Regions from separate parts of the Homo sapiens genome. Here all the other regions are reported to be linked to region 2. The links are microRNA targets in miRTarBase. Many come from high-throughput screens and were not tested one by one. Region 2 holds a microRNA gene; each other region holds the end of a gene's coding sequence.

Evidence for each region. The annotated mature microRNA hsa-miR-3157-5p reads UUCAGCCAGGCUAGUGCAGUCU and lies in region 2 at 3,591-3,612, opposite strand. An mRNA with a match to its seed (bases 2 to 7 or 8) in the 3' UTR can be bound and repressed. Matches are read on the target gene's strand: a 7mer-m8 pairs with bases 2 to 8, a 7mer-A1 pairs with bases 2 to 7 and ends in A, and an 8mer does both.
Region 1: miRTarBase lists CFAP91 as a target of hsa-miR-3157-5p. The part of its 3' UTR that is shown has no 7-base or 8-base seed match.
Region 3: the mRNA of UBE2J1 is a reported target of hsa-miR-3157-5p. The part of its 3' UTR that is shown has no 7-base or 8-base seed match.

Annotation. Positions count from the first base shown.
Region 1 is chr3:119,749,899-119,757,101 of GRCh38, forward strand. It overlaps CFAP91 (cilia and flagella associated protein 91), which reads left to right. Exons shown (of 18, transcript NM_033364.4): 17 at 1,039-1,200. The coding sequence ends at 1,199. Among named protein-coding and RNA genes, the nearest start is that of NR1I2, 29 kb to the right of the region's middle.
Region 2 is chr10:96,060,779-96,067,981 of GRCh38, forward strand. MIR3157 (microRNA 3157) reads right to left here and starts at 3,621; the gene lies at 3,537-3,621. It overlaps CCNJ (cyclin J), which reads left to right. Exons shown (of 6, transcript NM_001134375.2): 6 at 1-92. The region is part of intron 2 of ENTPD1-AS1 (ENTPD1 antisense RNA 1); the gene reads right to left.
Region 3 is chr6:89,323,949-89,331,151 of GRCh38, forward strand. It overlaps UBE2J1 (ubiquitin conjugating enzyme E2 J1), which reads right to left. Exons shown (of 8, transcript NM_016021.3): 8 at 2,677-6,009. The coding sequence ends at 5,731. Among named protein-coding and RNA genes, the nearest start is that of GABRR2, 12 kb to the left of the region's middle.

The sequences.
Region 1 (7,203 bases), not on the chromosome of region 2:
ATGCATGCTAAGTTCCAAGAAGTTCACTGAACATTTTTAAATGTACACTATCTCAATTTCTTTCAAGAGTTGTAGGTATATTCTCATTTTTCACTTAATGGAAATTAGCTCTTAGAGACATATGACTTGCAAATTTGAACCATGGTCTATGTGACTCCAAAGCCCCCACTTTTTCAACCATATTACTGTGAAGTGCTAAAAACTGCTGAGTGAATTACCCTATCTAAACTACCTGATACCCAAACAGCAAAGAATCCACAGTACTTCTTGCGGTCCTTTACTAGCTATTTGACTTTATGTAAATTACCTAATATCTCTGTGTCCATGTTTCTTCTTCTGAGAATGCGGATATTAAAATACTATCTTCTAGGAGGATTAAATGAATAATTACATGTGAACTGCTTAAAACAGTACCTGGCACAAAGTAAGGACAAATGCTAACTGTTAACATCATCATCATCACTACTCCTTTCCAAGGGCTTAGGTGCTTACCCTGATAGTGAATATTCTTAGAATTTGGAGCTAGGACTATGTTCTAAAGCCATGAGCTCATAAACTCATCATCAATCAGTAAGTCCCTTCCACATTAAGAACTAAGGCTCAAAGAGAAGTATAAGACTAGGTCTTTATATTTGTAAGTTACTTACACTCTAGATATCAAACGAAATGTAACTCACATGAAGTGCTTCAATGCTGAATAGGTTGGTACAAACTCAAGTGCGGTAAGTGGTAAATCTGGGCTGATGTAGTCAGAGGAGACTTCCTGGAGGATCTTGGACATGAGCTTTCCAGGTTTTAGAGTGCAGGCATTCCAGATGAGGGAAACTGCTGAGGAGTGGAATGGAGGCAAGCCTGGTGGAAAGGAGTATGACTGGGCTGAACCAGAGAGTGGGAACAGAGGGAGCAGAAAGAAATTAGATTTGGGTTGGGTTTTACCTTTAATTTGCAAAATTATTTCTATCATGACTCTCTTGAAACATTTGGGAATGGTTTTGTTCAGACTTTCAGAATGAAAATTTTTCTATTACTTTGGCACAGTGAGGAACGCACAGCGGAAACATATTCTTGCAGCCCATCAGATCATCCACAGTTACACGGAAAGCATGGTTCAAAAGAAATTAACTGAGGGAGAGCAAGATGAGGCCTCAAATGCTGCCATGTTACTTGAGAAAGAAACTCAAAATGAGAACAACAGCTAAGGTGAGTTTGATTTTCCACCAGGAAAAAAAGCAGAGAAAGGAAGAAAAGCGGCATTGTTCAGCTTTGTGCTGTGCTCAAACAATCATAATGTGAAGATTGCTGTTTAAGAAATGGAGGACTTCCACTTAAATTGGCACATTTCCTCTAGTTTATGTTATCTACTGTTGAGATTATTAGAAAATTAGAGTTGATATTACAGCAATTAGACTCTTGTGATACAAAAAAGAGGACTCTAAATTATTTTTATGGGTTCTTTTAGCATGTGTGTACCTCGTCAAATGAAGCTATAGAATGTGTCAGTGTTACATATAAACAATCTTGTTCTTATGGAAGTAGACAAGGTATGCCCTAATGCATTGTGCTAGCTGTAAGCATGGCATGAGACACAGAGCCTGCCCAATTCTAGCTCAGACACCTTCTGCAGTGCCCACAAGGGGTTGGTCTTGGGCTCAACTAAAGGCTGTCATACTCATGAGACTAATACAGACCATATTTGGCATGAATGTACTTAGAAAAATATAAGACAGGAAACAGCTTCCAGCAAGGCAACATCAGACATTTCTCTTCCTGTAGGAGCCCTTGCCATACCCATGCAGAACACATAGCTGTTTTCTTTAGTCCTTAGTTTACGGAGTGCAGATACAATACAAGGAAAAGAGGTTCACACCGGGTGGGTACAGGAGCTGCCCTGGCGTAAAACTTCACACCCCAGGGGCTGGAATCTCTTGTAATAATTCCATAGGCATAGCTTCCAGGGTCCCCACCATGGATTTGCCCAGCTACAAAAGTCAACATACTCACAGAAACTCAAAGCTGTGGTTTTCTATTAGGTATACATTCCTCCCAGTTCAGATGGAATTTACCAATCAGGGGTCATTTTTAAGTAGTTCAAATTGCTTAGTAACACAGTTGACACATATCACCTTATCAAGTTACTAGGAGAATAGAGCTAGGGAGTCAACTGAAAGTAAAATTCTCATGAGAAGGGGAATGGAGTGAACTTTTTGCTTATACTTTCTCCCTCAACCCTTTTGTGGTAGAGGCACATCTGCTGCTGTTTTGCCCTGAAGGTATACCAACCATCAGGTTGGGGAGAGTACTGGGGCTAGGGAGAAATTTTAGTTTGGCATTCAGAAGTTTTGTATATTGTCCAGCTCTGCCACCAATTGTATAATCTTACACAAATAATTTCTCTACTTCAGTCCTTGGTCCAATAGAATGGAATCTTAAGTCTCAATCAAAAGGAATCATGGAAGGAGGGTTGAGATGAGAGGGAAGGTAAGAAATATTGCAGAGAGAAAGCTAATAAGTGACTCTTAAATATCAAACTGTGGCTGTAAATTACAGCAGAAAAACTTTTGACTTTAATAGTAAAATAACCTCTGAAATAATTGAAAATATAAAACATCTATTACATGTAATGTTATATATTGTCTATAAAATGTAAATTCAAGGACCAAAGCATTTGGCTACCTTATTATTGTGATAAAAGCAAGCCTTAAGGTTGGGGTAGTCATTTTTCTGACATGCAAATTTAATAAGATTAATAATTTACACAATTTGCATTGAATGCATCTGCCTTTACTTCTGATTATGGTACCTACTCTATGACATCCATAGTGACCTGTGAAATCAAGCCAGAGGAGAAAAAAATCATCTTCTATTTATACTTAGTGAAAGTAAAATATATTTCATTAAAGCCTATGTAAAGCATATATGATAATTATAAAATCTAGTTGCAGAAAAGTCTAGTTGTCAGGCTAACTACAGACACTCAACAAAGATGACCAACCAATAAATTAAATGGTTGGAACATGAAGCTAAGCTGTCCCCAAAGTATATCCTCCCTCTTCCTTCTTGCAGAGGGAAGCAGAGAATGACAGATGTGAGATTATTCAATGATGTCTAGGGAAAGGGGCAGTAGTCATGGGCCACTGATTTAAAATACATATTTAAAAATACATATTTTTAATTAGCTTGAACAGAGAGCTAATAAAGTAGTGAAGAATTTCTGGGCCAAGATCTAGGAGAAGATAGAAATTTAGAGGGTTGGGTCTGGCATTTGGAGCTACTTTTTTCCTGGAAGAATATGACAATTCTAGAAAATGTGGCTGAAAGGCTGAGGAGTATTTTTAAAAGCTTTGCAAAACAAGGGGGACAAAAAACTTGAGTCAAGGTTGGGGCCCTGGTAAACCTTCTTCATTTGGGTAGGGACTCTAAAAGTCTATGCCCTAGTGGTAAGGGTTAACTGGAAGTAAACTATCCCTGGCATATGATATAGTTTAGCTTCTAATCATCTGAGTGATTTTAAAAATCTCAATCCCAGAAATTGAACTTAACGAGATCCTTGGTTTCTATTGCTTCAAGGAACCTGCCAGAAATAAAATGTAAATTCTCTTTACAGAAAGTTAACATTATTCTAGACCTCTATTTTCACAATTTCTAGAACACAATCAAGAATATTCAGGTACGTGAGGAGACATGACAGTCTGAACAAGTGGCAAAACAATAGATGATAGAAACAGACCTAAAAGGATCTAAAATATTGGAATCGTTAGACCCAGACTTTATTTTTTCCATAAGTTATTGGGGTATAGGTGGTATTTGGTTGCATGAGTAAGTTCTTTAGTGGTGATTTGTGAGATTTTGGTACACCCATCACCAGAGCAGTATACACTGCACCATATTTATAGTCTTTTATCCCTCATCCCCTTCCCACTCTTCCCCCCAAGTCCGCACAGTCCATTGTATCATTCTTATGCCTTTGTGATTAGACACAGTCTTTAAAATAACTATGTTGACTACTGTGGACTTCTATCCTCCAGAACTATGGGAAAATACATTTCTGTTGTTTAAGCCATCTAGTCTATGGTGTTTGGTTATGGCAGCCCCAGCTGACTAAGCCAGATTTTGGTACCAGGAGTTGGGTACTACTGTAACAAATACCTAAACATGTGGGAGTGGCCTTGCCACTGGTTATGGGTAGAAGCTGGAAGAGTTTTGAGGTACATACTATATATATGGACATTGAGGGTGATTCTGGTGAGTTGTCAGGTGGAAATATGGAATATGTTATTAGAAACTAGAGGAAAGGTGACCCTTATTATAAAATGGCAAAGACCTTGACTGAACTGTGTTCTAGTGTTTTATGGAAGGAAGAACTTGCAAGCAATGAAATTGGATATTTAGCTGAGGATATTTCTAAGCAAAGTGTTAAAGGAGCAACTTGGTTCCTCCTGACTGCTTATCATAAAATGTGAATGGCAAGAGATGAATTGAAGAAGGAAATGTTAAGCAAAAAGAAATCAGAATGTGAAGATTTGGAAAATTCTTAGCCTATTTATATTGGAAAAAACGAGAAAGCTCTTTCCAATGTGAATGCTAAGGGTGGGTTAACAGACATTTGATAAGTGTATGGGATCATATGAGCAGAAACATTGCAGGATGAAGTTAAGGAAGCCTATTGATTGGACTTCTTGAATTAGACAGGATGGGATGATAGAACTATTCAGCTGCAAACATGCACTATTCTTCAAGAAGAAGGAAAAATGATTCCACAGGAGATCCAGAGATCATCAGGGCCATTGTCCCAGTTTCAACAGCCAGGTGGCTTTCACCATGAGCTTTGGAAGAAGGACCACCCAGTGGACCCCAGCTCAGCAGAGCTATGGGGTGGGACCCTGGGTCAGCAGAGCTACAGGGACAGGACACTTACCTAGAGCCATGGGGATGGGGCATTGTAGAGTCAAAGGGGCAGAGCCATGGGAATGATGTTGCCACCCCAGTGGGCTTAGAAAGCAAGACACTAAGCCAAAGAAGACTATACTCAAGAATTAAGATCCAGTGGAATTTGCCTTGCCAGGTCGTGGACTTGCTTAGGATCCATCACCCATTTTTTTCTTCTGATTTTTCCCTTTTGGAAGGAAATATGTCTCCTATGCCTCTCCCACCATAGCATTTTGGAAGCACATAGTGTGGCTGGTTTCACAGGCTCATAGCTGGAGAATAATTTTGCCTCAGGACAAGTCATATCTTGAGTCTCACCCGTACTTCATTTGGATAATATTTATGAGACTTTGAACTTTAGACTTTAGAGTTGACATGGGAATGAGTTAAGATTTTTGGTATTGTTGGTATAGAATGAATGTACTTTGCATGCAAGAAGAACATGAATTCTACCTGGGGTAGAATGCTTGTGGATTGAAATGTGTCCTTGAAAATGCGTATGTTGAAGCTATAACCCCCAATGTGGTATTTGGAGACAGGACCTTAGGGAGAGAATTAGGTTTAGAGAAGGTAATGAGGGAAGAACCCTCATGATGGGGTTATTGCTTTTATGAGAAGAGACATCACAGTGCTTCTCCTCTCCTTCTTCCACTCCCCCTCTGCCATTCTCCCTCTCTCTCTCTTCCTTTCTCCCTCTCTTCCTCCATCTTCAATGTGAAGACACAGTAAGAAGGTGGCCATCTAGATGACAGGAAGAGAACTCTCAACCAAAACTAACCATGCTGTCACCTTGATCTTGGACTTGTAGCCTCTAGAACTGTGAGAAAAGAAATTTCTGCTGTAAGCTATCCAATCTATGGTATTTTGTTATGACAGCCTGAGCTAAGACACTTACTCTGTTCACAGGGTAAATGCCAATATTGAAAATTTCAAGAGAACTGGACATAATAAAAATGATATAGCAGATTTGAAGAAAATAGAAATTCCAGAATTTAAAAATACAGTAGCAAAAGTGAGAAACTCAGTGAATCTCTCCTGAGAGATATTTAGAAAGAAGCACAGAAAGACAAAAGGATAGAAATTACAGAAGAGAGAGAAGGATAGATTTAGAATAGCTTAATGATTTAGAAAAGGAGAAAGAGTGAGTAGGCATGGACCACTGATTGAAGAAATTTCACTACTAAAGGAAGGAATAATATGTTGGGAGATCATATGGAATACGAATTTTCCAAAAACGATAAAAGACTTGTTTTCAAGAAGACTTCTTAACCCTAAGCAGAATAAATAAAAAGAAAACGATACCTAGATACACCTTAGAATACTAATACTGCTGAAAGCCAAAAAGAAAAAGAAAAACCTTTAAAAGCATTCAGAGAAAAACGATAAATTACCTTCATAAGAGCAATAATTAAGCTGACAGTTGACTTCTCATCAGAAACAATGAAAGCCAAAAAGATGGAATGATATGTTCAATATATTGAAATAGTAAAATAAAGTAGGATTCTAGGCAAACATATTCTTCATGCAAACATATTCTTCAAGAATGGCAACGAAAGACATTTTCAGACAAATGAAACTAATAAAATTTGTCACTAGGAGATCTGCAACACAAGAAATTATTAAAGGGTACTTTTTAAGCAGAAGAAAAATTATCCCAGTTGGAAGGTTGGAAATAAATTTAAGGACAGGTATGTGGATTGGCTTATTGACTGCATAAAAAAATTATAAGAAACAGCAATAATAGGAGCAATGCAGTTATAAAACAAAAGAGTAATATATAAGTCAGAAGAGGGCTAAATGGATTAAATTTTTCTAAGGCACTTGCATTGTTTAGGAGGAGGATAAAAGTATAAGTTGACATTGATAACTCAATGATCCATGACAACTCAAGGATACATTTTGTAACCTCTAGGGTAACTCTGAAAGGATAATAAAGAGATATATGACATCTAAGCTAACAGAAGAAAATGGGACTAAATTTTCAAAACACTCAATACAAAAAGTGGATAGAAAGGAGAAAAAAGGAAACAGAACCAATAGAAAGCACTGAATAAAATGGTAGATGCAAACCAAATTTTATCACTGACTACATTAAATGTAAATAGACAAAATATTCCAAGTAAAGTCAGAATTTACCAGACTGAATAAAAATCATACTAAATTATATGCTGCTTGCAGGAAGCCTATATAAAATCTAAATATACAAATGGTTGTAAGTTAAAAGATTGAAAAAGATACCATAAAAACACCACCCATAGAAAAGCAGATATAGCAATA
Region 2 (7,203 bases):
GCAAATAGCAAGTATGGTGCTAAAGTCTACACCAATGGAATTAGATGAGTGCTATGCACTTAATTTTAAAATAAAACTAGTTTTCAGTAAAATGGCTTCGGTATTTTTGTTTTAAATACAAACTTGTATATTTGCAGCTCTAGTGAACCATCTCATCATGTAATTCAGACTTGGAATCATGATTTTATTTACTAAAAGCCATCAAGATGTAGAATATAGCCATTAGTGGCATAAAACATCCGTTCATTGCGTATTCCATACTGAGCATTAAAGCCCACAAAAGTATATTGGACACCACTGTTGCCTTTTTGAGCTTAAAATCAGTTGTTAGTATGTTAGCAACTACAGATTCTAATTTATTCAACAATCATGCAAGCATCAGAAAATCTGAAGTTTGATGTCAAAAGTAGGGACACAGAAAATGGTTAAAGCTATGAGAAGGAATATAGGGTCTACAGTGAGTGAGAATGGTCTATTTACCTGAGTATAAATATCATTTGCTACTTAATTCAACTCAAACCTTAGCAGATGGAATTTGTTTTGAAAAGTAAAATTTAACAGGTTTGTACAAGCGGGTTAGGAATTTACACTGCCTTTTTAAAAAACATTTTTGAAATTAGTCTCAAAACTATCGTATTGTCACTTGTTCTGGCACAGTGCCAGGGTTTAGCAGCCCTCAAGAGTTAATATACCATGTTCTTTAGGGCTGACTTTAAGAAAAAGAAAAAGCATTCCAAACCAGGCCAGGTAGCTTTGCCTTGAGGTGATCTGAGCCCCATGTGGCAAGTTTATAACCAACAACTGCCTCTCAGGCACGTGGTAAAAGCCTCCCTAGCCTCAAGCAGCTTACATCTAGTTTGATAAATACGACTAGCACACTTGCAGCAATTAGGCTAGTAGAGGCCCGCACGGTGGCTCATGCCTGTAATCCCAGCATTTTGGGTGGCTGAGGCCAGTGGATCACTTGAGGCCAGGAGTTTGAAGCCAGCCTGGGCAACATGGTGAAACCCTGTCTCTACTAAAAGTACAAAAACTAGCTGGGTGTGGTGGCACGTACCTGTAGTCCCAGCTACTTGGGAGACTGAGGCACAGGAATCACTTGAACTCAGGAGGTGGAGACTGCAATAAGCTGAGATCACACCACTGCACTCCAGCCTGGGCAACAGAGCTAGAGTCTGCCACTAAATAAAATTAGGCTGGTGTAGTCTGGAACTCGGTTTAATATCGTGTTAGTTTAGGAATCACTCAACATTCATTTTTCAATCCCTTAGATTTTAAAGTAGCAAGTACAGTCAGTTGACAGCATAAGGACCAGGCTCAGGGATCATATGGGAAGGACACCTGCTATCCTATCCTTGCCTGACTACCACTCTGTTTCCTCCCATAACACCCTCTGCCTCCCAGGTAAGCATCACCACCCTGAATTTATTAGTTCTTAAGTCCATGAAGCCTTGACATGGTATGCAATTTATATGTAAATGATTTCCCCTATTCTTAAAGTTTTGTCTACTCAAAGGGACCTGTAATTAAAAATGTAAGAGTGACTGTCTTGTATCCATTTACTTGCTAGTTTCTCCCTACTAGAACCTTGTGTTAGGCCGTTCTCGCATTGCTATAAAGAAATACTCAGGACTGGGTAATTTATAAAGAAGAGAGGTTTAACTGGCTCATGCTTCTGTAGGCTGTACAGGGAGCATGGAGCTGGCATCTGCTTGGCTTCTGGGAGGCCTCAAGAAACATGGCAGAAGGGTAAGCAGGAGCAGGAATCTCACTTGGTGGGAACAAGTGGGGGTAGGCGAAGGTGCCACACACTTTAACCAGATCTCACATGAAGTGAACTCACTATCACAAGGACAGCACCAAGCCATGAGGGATCCGCCCCCATGACAAACACCTCCCACTAGGCCCCACCTCCAACATTGGGGATTACATTTCAACATGGATTTGGGTGGGGACAAATATCTAAACTATGTCAAACATATCTTCCCTCTGTCTGCCAGGCTGGAGCGCAGTGTTGCCATTATGGCCCACTGCAGCCTCGACCTCCTGGGCTCAAAAAATTCTCCCACTTCAGCCTCCTGAGTAGCTAGGATCGTAGGCATACACCACCACATGCCTGGCTCATTTTTACAATTTTTTGTAGAGGTGGGGGTTTGCCATGTTACCCAGGCTGTCCTTTTTTTTTCTTAAGATTTTTAATTTTAGAACAGCTTAGATGTACAGAATTATTACTAAGATAGTACACAGAGTCCCCATATAGCCCACAGCCAGTCTCTCTTCTTATTAATATATTGAGATGGTACATTTGTCACAATGCACCAGTACTGATGTACTATTACTAACAGAAATCCATGCTTTATTCAAATTTCCTTAGTTTTTCCCTAATATCCTTTTTCTCTCCCAGATTCCTATGCAGGATATCACATTACCTTTAGCACTCAGGTCTTAGGCAACTCTGGGTTGTGACAGTTACTCAGACTTTGTCTGTGATGACCTCGACAGTTCTGAAAATCCGTGGTTAGGTATTTCATAGAATGAACATATGTTTCTTGAGAGCAGGGATTTTGTCTTACTCATCTTACGCCCCTGTGTGTGATAGGGATCTGATGTATGATAGCACATCATAGGCTCTTGGGATGTAGGTAACAAAAAATTGGCCAGCACGGTGGCTCACACCAGTAATGCCAGCACTTCTGGAGGCCAAGGTGGGTGGATCACTTGAGCTCAGGAGTTCAAGACCAGCCTGGCCAACATGGCAAAACCCCATCTCTACAAAAAATAAAAAAACTAGCTGGGCGTGGTGGTGTGTGCCTGTAGTCTCAGCTACTTGTGGGGCTGAAGCAGGAGGACTGCTTGAGCCCAGGAGGTCGAGGCTGCAGTGAGCCATGTTTGTGCCACTATACTCCAGCCTGGGTGACAAAGTGAGACCCTGTCTCAAAACAACAACAACAAAAATGCAGTGTAAAAGTAGGCAGTGACTAATAAACAAATGCTGCCTTGGGTTGATTTAAAAAGTAGAGTACTCTGATCATAGGAAGGCACAGTCCCATCAGATTCAGCACTGGTTAGATCGTATCTACAAAAATCTTGTGAACTGAATTTTAAGTGGAATGGTGATAAACCCAAGTTTTGCCACAAGCTGGTGATGGGTCCAGGAATCATGTTATATGAGTAACAACTGAAGGAACTGGTGGTGTTTTCACCTGGGGAAGCCTAAGGAAAGGTAAAATGCTTGTCTTCCCAGATGTGAGAAGTCCTATTACTGCAAAGGGCAGAATTAAGTCAGTGGTCCAAAGTTTCTCACATTTCAATGAATAATAAGCCAGAATGTTACAAACAGAGTAGTGCTGCTTTGAGAGTTCCTGAGTTCCTAGTTAACAGAGGCCCCTGACATAGACCAGAAATGGGATGGAAGTAATCCTTGAACTTGGGTGTAAACATCTTCCAATTCTCAAGAGCTTCTGAAGCTCTAAAGAGTTTCTGAAGAGTTTCTAAAGGTTTTATGGACCTGGGACTTGAGCTGGGTGTAGAAAGAAGGGAAAAGCTTCAGCTAGACTAGGGCAGTCATCACCCCAGTGTTGGCACAAAGCAGACTGCACTAGCCTGGCTGAAGCCCTTCCCTTCTTATATTCTCAGCTCAATTGTTGGACAGTGAGGGCAGACTCATTGAGAAGTTGTAGAGGAAATAAAGTTGAGTGAGTAGAATGAGGTTGAGTTACGGAGTTTTGAAAGCCAGAAGAGAATACAGACTTTGTGGGGTCAGAGATATCGCTGAGGATTTGTGATATGATACTGGTGATTTTAGGAAGAATGATGATTTTAGGAAGATTGGTTTTAGAAAGAATAATGATTTTAGAAAATGGTGGTTTTAGGAAGAATGATCTGACAGTATCAGGGTAGGTTAGTAAGAGAAGATGGGAGTCAGAAAGCTTTCTGCAATAATGACAAATTGAGTAAGAATGGTACATGGATATTTAATGGTACAAAGGTAAACCCTAAGAAAGAAAACAAAATTGATAGAATTGAGGGATAGAATAAAGGAAAGGAAATATACTAATTCTGTTATTACTTATAAAAGTGAATTACAGATACTGAGATACTGGCTAAATAGAAAACAGAAATACTGATTATACAATCTGTATTACAAAGTTAACTACAGGAACAAAAACACAAAGCTTTCTAATTATGAAAAGAAGGAATAAAACAAAGCAAACTTTCCATATAGTAAACTATACTTTAAAGGTATAAATAGCAAAAGTATAACAAAATAATCTGACAGAACTAAGTCCAAACATATCAAATCAATAAATGAAAACAAACTCAACTATTAAGGGAAAAAGAACTTCAGACTGAATCACAAAGTGAAACTCAAATCTATGTTGTATGAGAGACAGGTCTAAAATAAAATGATTAAGAAAGGTTGAAGATCAACGAAAAAGTAGAGATACCAGAAAAACTCAAACAAAAAGCAAGGATCAAGATCTTAATAACAGACAAGGCTGAATTTTGGCCAAAATGTATTAAACCAAATTTTAAAAAGGGCACTTTATAATGCTAAAGGTTACAGTTCATGATAAGGATGAAGTTATTAATACTTCTGGATCAAATAACTGTAGCAATATTATGCACAAACTATAAAGGTTTTACAGAGAAATAAAAGAAAAACATGGGGCAGGGTGCAGTGGCTCACGCCTGTAATCCCAGCACTTTGGGAGGCCGAGGCGGGCGAATCACGAGGTCAGGAGATCGAGACCATCCTGGCTAACACGGTGAAACTCCGTCTCTACCAAAAATACAAAAAGTTAGCCGGGTGTGGTGGCGGGCGCCTGTAGTCCCAGCTACTCCAGAGGCTGAAGCAGGAGAAAGCTCCAGGAGGCGGAGCTTGCAGTGAGCCGAGATGGCGCCACTGCACTCCAGCCTGGGTGACAGAGCAAGACTCCGTCTCAAAAAAAAAAAAAAAGATGGTAGGTAAGAAACTAATTTATTTCTCTAAGTCCATGACAGATCAGTAACATTAAAAAAAAAAAAAGCAAGGATATACAAAACCCTAACACACCATTATGGTTCATCTAATGGACACATATTAGATATTCTGAGAAGGAAATGGTGCAGACCTGGAATAACAAAGACGGCAGAGAAAACAAAGTACACCGCCAGATGTACAGAGATAGCCTGTCACGCATGCCAACAGCAAAATTCTGTCTTCTAAAGAGTCCTTAGATAACTGAAATTGCTTTCTTTGTTGACCCATCTAGGTGCCTGAGATCAGAATATCCTTACTGGCCTCTTTGCTAGCTACCAGCTAATCTGCAGCTTATCTAGAGAAAATAAAATTCATGGTTTCCAAACTGCAAAAACACTTCCACTTTTGCCTTTGTTAGATGAGGTCAATCCATTACTGGATTTCACTTTACACAACAGTATACTAATAACTGACTATATTTCTGTAAGTTTTCTTGGATAATATCAAACTCTAATGTGAGGTTTTACAAAACTTGACTATGTATTAATCCACCAAAAAACTGCAACAATTCCAAAAAGTAGAATTACTACAGAAGACATATTCTGATGAAAATGTGACTAAAAAGAAATATGTAATAGGACCAAAGAACTCAAATAATCTTTAGGTCAAATAAGAAATCGAAACTGAAATTTCAAATTATCTAGAAAATCACTTGTAACAAAAATTCTACGTATCATGAGCTCTGGGATAAAACTAAAGCAATGCTCAGAATAAAATTAACATCCAACTGAAAAAGTCTAAGAACAAGAAACCAAACAAAAGCAGGAGGAAAGAAATAAGACAAAAGCAGTAAAAATGAATTATAAAAGGGAAAAAGAAAAAAACTAATACCTACCTATACATGCAATACAACTAAACAAGAGAAAATAAAATACAGTTTAAACATTGGGAAGGAGGAGGTAAAATTACAACTATTTGCAGAATCAATGTATACCTGGAAATGCAAGGTAATCAACTGAAAAACTATCACACGTGATAAGGAAATTTAGTAAATTGGCTGGCTACACAATTAAAATAGCTCTCATATATACAAACAACAACCAATTAGATTTAATGCAAGATATACTCAATTATAATGGCCACCAAAATAAGACAAAATGGCAATAAATACAACACATGCACAAGATCTACATAAAGAAAACTCTAAAATACTTATGACACAAAAGAAAGTTGCACAAGGCATACCATATACTTTTATAGAAAGTGTAAACTTTATAAAGATGTCAATTGTCCTTAATCTATAAATTTAACATACTCTAACAAGGTAATTTTTTTAAATTACCTAAATAAAGAATAATGAATATAGAAAAGCCCCATGACATATTAAAATATATTACAAATCTATAAAAAATAAAAATGGTACTGGCAAATGAGTTGACACACAATTCTGTGAAACAGAACAGAAATTCCCAAAATAAACATATTTAGAATTTATTATATAATAAAGGTGGTATCTTAAATTAGTAGAGGAAAATAAATATTATTCAATAAATTGAGTTAGGTCAACTGGGTAGCCACCTAGAAAAACAAATTTGGATTCCACACCTCAAAAAATTTAAGTTTTAGGCTGGGCACAGTGGCTTATGCTTGTAATCCCAGCATTTTAGGAGGCTGAGGTGGGAGGATTGTTTGAGGCCAGGAGTTTGAGACCAGCCTGGGTGATATAGCGAGACTCTCGTTTCTGTAAAAAATACAAAAATTAGCCAGGTGTAGTGGTACGTGTCTGTAGTTCTAGCTACTATGGAGGCTGAGGTGGGAGGATCACTTGAATCCAGGAGTTCAAAGACAAGCTTGAGCAACACAGTGAGATCCCATCCCTACAAAAAAATTTAAAAATTAGCCAAGCATGATGGTGCATGCCTGTAGTCCCAACTACTAGGGAGGCTGAGGTGGGAGGATCGCTTGAGCCCAGAAGTTGGAAATTACAGTGAGCTATGATCTCACCATTGCACTCCAGCCTGGGCAACAGAGTGAGACCTCATCTCTTAAAACAAAATTAAATAAACAAATAAAACATTTAAATTCTGACCAAAAAGAAACCATGGAAGAATTATTTTATAACCTCAAAGACAGAATGTGTAAGAATACAAATGCAGGCTGGGTGTAGTGGCTGCCTGTAATCCCAGCACATTGGGAGGCCAAGGTGGGTGGATCACCTGAGATGAGGAGTTCGAGACCAG
Region 3 (7,203 bases), not on the chromosome of region 2:
TTGAGGCTGGGAGTAATTCATTACAGGGACTAATTCAGTGGTTCCCAAATCTGACCACGCCTCAGAATCATCAAGGGAATTTGTTTAAAAGTCCTTCTCCTCCTGAAGCCTTAGTAGTGGGAGGCATGAGGCCTATTAAAGTTCTTTTCCATAGATTTTGTTCAAAGGATCTTTCTTTTCCTTACTTCCATTTGGAATAAGCTTATAAAGGACTGGCTTGAACCCTAGGATTGTGCCTGGATGTGTAATCACCCAACAAGTTCCCCTTGCGCACTGTCCAGGCAAAGCCAATTCATCAAGACAGGGGAATTGGAATAAAGAGTTCAATTCATGCAGAGCTGGTTGTATGGAAGACTGGAGTTTTATTATTACTCAAATCAGACTCCTGGAAAACTCAGCGATCGTGGCTTTTCAAGATAATTTGGTGGATAGAGGGCTTGTTTTGGAAAAGGGCTGTTACTGTCTTTGTTTCAAAGTTAAACTATAAACTAAGTTCCTCCCAAAGTTAGTTTAACCTACGCTCAGGAATGAACAAGGGCAGCTGGGAGGTCAGAAGCAAGATAAGAGTCAGGTCAGATCTCTTTTACTGTCATAATTTTCTCAGTTATAATTTTTGTAAAGGCAGCTTAAGGTGGTGGTTTTCAATAAATATTTGTTTTGTTGCATGTAGACAACTTTAGGTCCTACCAATTTTTTACTTTAAAGCCCTTTTATCAATAGTTCAATTATTGTAATTACAGTCAGGAGAAAACCATTGTAGGATGGTATAATTATTTTTTTAATCACAACTTTATTGAAATATCATTCACATACCATAAACTCACCCCTTTAATGTGTGGCTTTTGGAATATTCCGTTATGCAGCTCCCCTAAAAGAAGACTCATACCCATTAGAAGTCATTCCCCTTTCCCATTCCCTTCAGCCCCTGGCAACCAACACTAGTTTCTGTCTCTATGAATTTGTCAATTCTAGACATTTTATGTAATTAGAATGATATAATATGCAGCCTTTTGTGTCTGATTTCATTCACTCAGCGTAATGTTTCCAGGGTTCATCAATGAAGCATATATCATCACTTCATTCTTTTTTATGGCCATAATATTCCATTTTCCATAGACATACAATATGTCCATAGACATACAATTCCATTTCCATATACATACAATATGTTGTATGTATAGATACAACATATTGCTTATCCATCAGCTGGGCATTTGAGTTTCTGCTTTGGGGCTATTAAAAATAATGCTGCTATGAATATTTGTGTACAAGGTTGTGTGTAAATGTTTTCATTCCTTTTGGATATTATATGTGGCAGTGAAATTGCTGGGTCATATGGTAACTTTATATTTAACCTTTTGAGGAACTGCCAAATTGTTTTTCAAAGTGGCTGCACCATTTTACCTTCCCACCAGCAATGTATGCGAGTTCCAATATCTCCACATCCTCACGAACACTTGTTATCTGGCTTTTTTGTTCTGACCATCCTTGTGAGTGTAAACTGGAATCACTGTGGTTTTAATGTGCATTTCCCTAATGACTAAGGATGTTGAGCTTCTTTTCAGGTGCTTATTGGGCATTTGGATATCTTCTTTGTAGAAATCTCTATTCAAATTATTTGCCATTTTAAAATCAGGTTATTTCCTTTTTATTACTGAATTGTAATTATTTAGATATTTCAGATACAAGTCCCTTATTAGATATGTGATCTGCAAATATTTTCTCCCATTGTGTTGTCTTTTCACTTTCTTAGTGGTGTTGTTTGATACACAAGAGTTTTTTATTTAAAGAAATATAATTTTCTTTTTTTTTTGGTTGCTTGTGTTTTTCTTTTTTTTTTTTTAAGAGGTACGATCTTGCTCTGTGGCCCAGGCTGGAGTGCAGTGGTGCTATCACAGCTCGCTGTAACCTCAAACTCCTGGGTTCAAGCAATTCTCCCACCTCCACCTCCTGCATAGCTAGGGCTACAGGCTAATTTTTTTTAAATTTTTTGTAGACACAGGGTCTTGCTATGTTGCCCAGGCTGGTTTCAAACTCCCAGCCTCAAGTGATCCTCCACCTCCCAAAATGCTGAGATTATAGGCCTGAGCCACCATGCCAGACCTGCTTGTGCTTTTGATATCATATTTAAGAAACCACTGCATATCCCATTGTCACGTTTACTAAGTTTCCAAGAATTTTATAGTTTTAACTCTTACATTTAGGCCTTTGATCCATTTTGAGTTAATTTTCTTATATGGTGTATGAGGTAGTGGATGGTATAACTTTATTTACTCATTTTTCTCAGGGCAGGGTATAGCCCCAGTGGATCGAGGTCAGAGCTGTGGGAAGGCCCCAAAGGCATTTGCTGAGGTCTGATTATGCCAGACACCTAGGTGGGACTCTAGTCATGCACAGCCTTGTGCTTTATGTTAAGGGTTTCACCCTATCTAAGAGCAACAGGAGAGAAGAGATCAGGTCTGTATATTGAAAACTCTGGCTGCAATGTAAGGAATGGGGTGAGACTAGAGACCTGTTAGGAGGTTACTGCACCAATTTGGAGGAGTTAATAGCTAAATAGGATATAGTGCCTAGTTAGGGAAGTGGAAAGATGAGAGAGAAATATTCTAGGAGGTAGAATGGATGAGAGACAAGACTGGATGATGTAAAGAATACAACCTTTGGTCAAAAACAAGGTATGAGTAAAGTCACTGGTTTTATTGAGCAGCTCAAACTAGTTCTGAAGGCAACTGTTCAGAAGGCGTTCCCAACAGCTTTTGAGCAATGCACAGCCTCCCATAAAACCTTAAAAAGTACATCTGTTAATGTGCACATTAGTCTTTGTTAGTCACGTTCACTAAATGCATTAACCTTACATATACTTCCAATTAAAAAAACACATAGGCTTTTCAGTATTTTGGCCTAGATTTTTGTTCAAATGAGTCCAAATGTGTGAGTGAGGTTTACCTGTTTTCTGATTCTGATCTATAAAAATGGGTGGTCTCAAAAGACCAGAAAGTTTATTCATAGCCAAAAATGACAAAAAGAGTTCTTATTCTCCCAAAATAGGAAATTTTGTATTCCTATAGTCAAAACAATAAACAATTTTTGAAATTAAAAAAGTTGAGAATCTTGAAATTCATTTTTTTCAGTAGAATAAAACAATAAGCAGCATGAAAACGTAAAGTGCTACATAAAAGCCCCACATTACATAAATTTTGAAAAGTTTATTGGCTTAAACAGTTACAGGTGAAACAGATTACGTATTTTTTTTTCAAGCATGCTATTTTAATTACCTTGATATCTCATCATGTGCTATGTTGGTCAAATAAAATGTCATGAGTTATCTAGATCTGAGGATTAAAGAGGAGTCCTCAGCCTTTACTTGCCAGAATATACATCCAGTTTTAGCTGTATGCTGGAATTAAGGAGTTAAAGTAGGGCTTTAAAGATAATAGTTTTCTGAAGAGGCCTTTCAGTGGGGCTTGGACAAAAAGGGCCCCAAAGACCAATTTTGCTCATTAACCTCACACTGGGGATCAGATTGACAACTTAAGGATTTTTAGGGAGCATATGTGAGATCAAAGGGAAGAAGAAAATGGTGCCCCTTTCAGATGGTGCTTCAGGTGCTAAAAAATATCCCAACACAAACAAGCAGGTGGCTAGCTGACAGGTGGGGGAAGAGATGCAAGTCAGATAGCAAAGGATCTGCACAGTGCAAAATCTTCTTGGCTTTTTATTTAACTTAGCAGTGAATGCAGCAGGATTGGCTTAAAGTATAGGTACACCCCATGGAAACATGCAATAAGATCACATCGATCCAGAGGCTGGCTCAAGTTTGACTGAGGGGAAACGGAGGGAAGGCTGTTCCTAGCACACAATCTCAGCAGAGGTTGAGGTGGTGGGGATTTCTTTCTTCTCATATGACGCTACCGTCGGTGACTTCTTACTAGGAGACCACTGAGCACTGAATCAAGGTTTCTAATATGTTTCAAATCAAGATTTTAGAGTGTATTTTCTTATGGCAATAGAGTTATAAAATGGTAACCTATGATTTTCCTCATATAATGAGATCTTCATAAAGTCCTTGAGCTTTTTAGACTTTAACAAATTCAGCTACAGATATAAAAAATAATCTGTAAACACCTTTAAAATGCGAATTTATTAAAGTTTAAGACAATTCTGTATTATATAATAGTGTACAATATGTTCTTATTTTAGATGTAGAAATAAAGGAAAACTGGCTCTCAGATGAAAACAGAAATTGTGTCTGACAGTTAATAGAACGAATGTCCCATAAACAGGAGTAAAAATTAAATTTTCCTTTAAGACGATTTTACAATTATTTCTCTTGTCCATAATTTCACTTAGTTAAAACCACATAAGGACTTTATGAATACCCTCCCCTATACTATTCAAGATATACATATGGGCTAACTTTCGTGGACCGATCTAGAACCTAAATACCACTTCCAACATTGTTTGACTTGTAAAAAAATTAACTTACAAATAACACTTTTGGAGCATAACCTATTTGAAAGCTTGGAACCACCTGTATTTAAAAATTAAATCTTCATTAACAACACCCTCAAGAGTGCCCTCAGTGCTGCGAACTGAACATGCTGAAGGCAATGTTTTTCTGTGATTATATGGTTTCACCAGCCATTATGATGATAATATTATCTACTAGAGTCTGTGGCGCTAGCTAGCACTAAGTTATATATTGATTTTTCCACTGAAAATTCTTTCTTGGGCTCTGACTAGGTGGACAATTCTAAGTAAAGGTTTTTCTAACTTCTATCACTGTTACTTGGGCCCTGAGGTTTTCTATTAAAATAGGACATGAAATATTTCAATATTATGCATATTCCTGGAATAATTAAAATTTATACTGATTATAAAGCTAGGCATATAATACATCCCAAAAGACATACATTTCAAAGCAGACCAAACATTCAAATCTTCAGATCCCCCCATTTAACTTCTGGAAGAAAACCAAGCGATCTCCTGGCTTGGGCCCTTTCTTCCTTAAAAATCTATGGAAGACTGTTTTCTTTCTTTTTAAATTTGTGTGATTATGGCAGCAGAGGGCAGGGGGTGGTGATAACAGCATATCAAAGTGGTTACAAAGTACTCCCTCTTCAAGTAGCATCCAGTGACAAAGATGTGATCTCATTTCCTCATAAATGTTTGACTGAAATAAAATTATTTTCACTGAAGAATGTTTAGGACACAAATAAAGTCACAGAATGAGCAATTCCAGTACATCTCCTATGAATGACATTTTAAGGAAGCTACTTGAGGAGTTTTGCTTTCCCTTTTCAACTCTTCTATCCCTATACATTCTACATACGTAGAAACAGAGTACTCAATAAGTGGTATTGAGTAACTAGTAATACTCATTGGAACTTAAAACATCATCTTTTATCCAAAAATTTCAAAGGGCAATATAGGAAAGTATTACAAATTTACATAAAAAGAAGATGAAACATGAGAAAAAACAAGTTATTTCCCTGCAAAGCAGATCAAATAGTGAGACAAGGAACTTTGACTTCTAGTCCCTTTAAGCAGGACGTAACTGCTAGACACAGTCTGAATGTCTAGATATATTTATACTAAACTTACAAGGATCAAAAAAAGGAATGAAGGGTAAATACAAAATAATCTTTTTGTAAACAATTCTTAGATTATACCCAATGCAGAATGTTTAATGAAGCAGTTGAGTCACAGCTCATAAGTCACAAAACCATATTATAACTCAAAGTCAAATATGTATTCGTTTGCCAGATATATTCGTCGGAATATAAGAGCTGCCAATGCCAAAGTCAGGATGACAATCAGTACAGCTGACCCACCATGATCAGTGTGGTTGTCTCTTGGCTGGTGGCCCTGGATTACATCTGGTGAAGTAGACAACCTTCTCTGACTCTGCTGCTGGGCCCGGCGCTGTCGAGGGCTCATGGAGGTATTCTTAGCTACAGGTTGGGTAGGTTGATGAAAGGATGCTGCTGAGGAATTCTGGAGTCCGTACTAGGAAATTTTAAGAAACTTTGTTTGAAACTGGCAAAGAAGATTTGTAAATACACTTGTTATCTATTCAAGAATACACAATCTCAGAGGACAACATATGACTAAGGGCAACACTACCAAGAATGATTGTTACTAATAATACATCCCTTGAGGGGCATCTAAATTTAGGTTCAAAAAAAAGTCATAAGTTAGGACAGCTTTTTGGCCTTTTAATAGTTTTATTAATATATTTAGAAAAACAATCCCTTAAAACATTGGTCTAGATGATATTTTAACACATACGCTTAATGAAAATATGTATATACATATAATGTTTTAATTAGGTTCCTATGTTTCAGATGCCTTTTGTCTCTATTTTTTTAATCATTATTTTTTTAGAGATGGGATCTTGTTACATTGCCCAGGCTGGTCTTGAACTCCTGGGATCAAGCGATCCTCCTGCCTTGGCCTCCCAAAGTGCTGGGATTATAGGCATGAACCAACGTGCCCAGCCTCAGATGCCTTTTGGATGGTATATCACTAACTAAAAATTAAGTGCCTTGATATTATAAAATTCTAAATTTTTTCCTATTTAAAACAATCATACAGCACTTTGGGAGGTTGAGGCAGGAGGACTGCTTGAGCCCAGGCATCTGAGACCAGTCTGGCCAACATAGTGAGACACTATCTCTACAGAAAAATTTTAAAACTTAGCCAGGTGTGGTCATGCCCACCTGTGGTCCTAGCTACTTGGGAGGTTAAGGCAAGAGGATCACTTGAGCTCAGGAGGTTGAGGCTTCGGTGAGCTATGATCACATGCCTGCACTCCAACCTGAGCAACAGAGTGAGACTCTCCCTTAAAAAGATAAAAAATCACATTCTTAGTTAAGTCCCTAGTGATATATATATAAATTTTTCTAGAATAACCAGCATGTGTGAGGGAGTTTTGCTTTTTATTATAAAATGAAATGGCTTATTCAGAACCTCGATCCCTACCCTGGGAAAAGGAGAAAATCTGACAGACTGCAAGAACAAAACTGCCTTCAGTGTTTTTCCCATTTCTACATTTCCCATTGCTTTTTGATGCTAAAATATCTGCATTAAAAAGCAACAGATGGCCTGATGTTATCTGAGGTATTTAGAGTTGTGGCAATCTCTTGCCTCTCCTTCAGGCTAACAACAACAAAAAAATCATAGCTTATCTGGGATTTGATG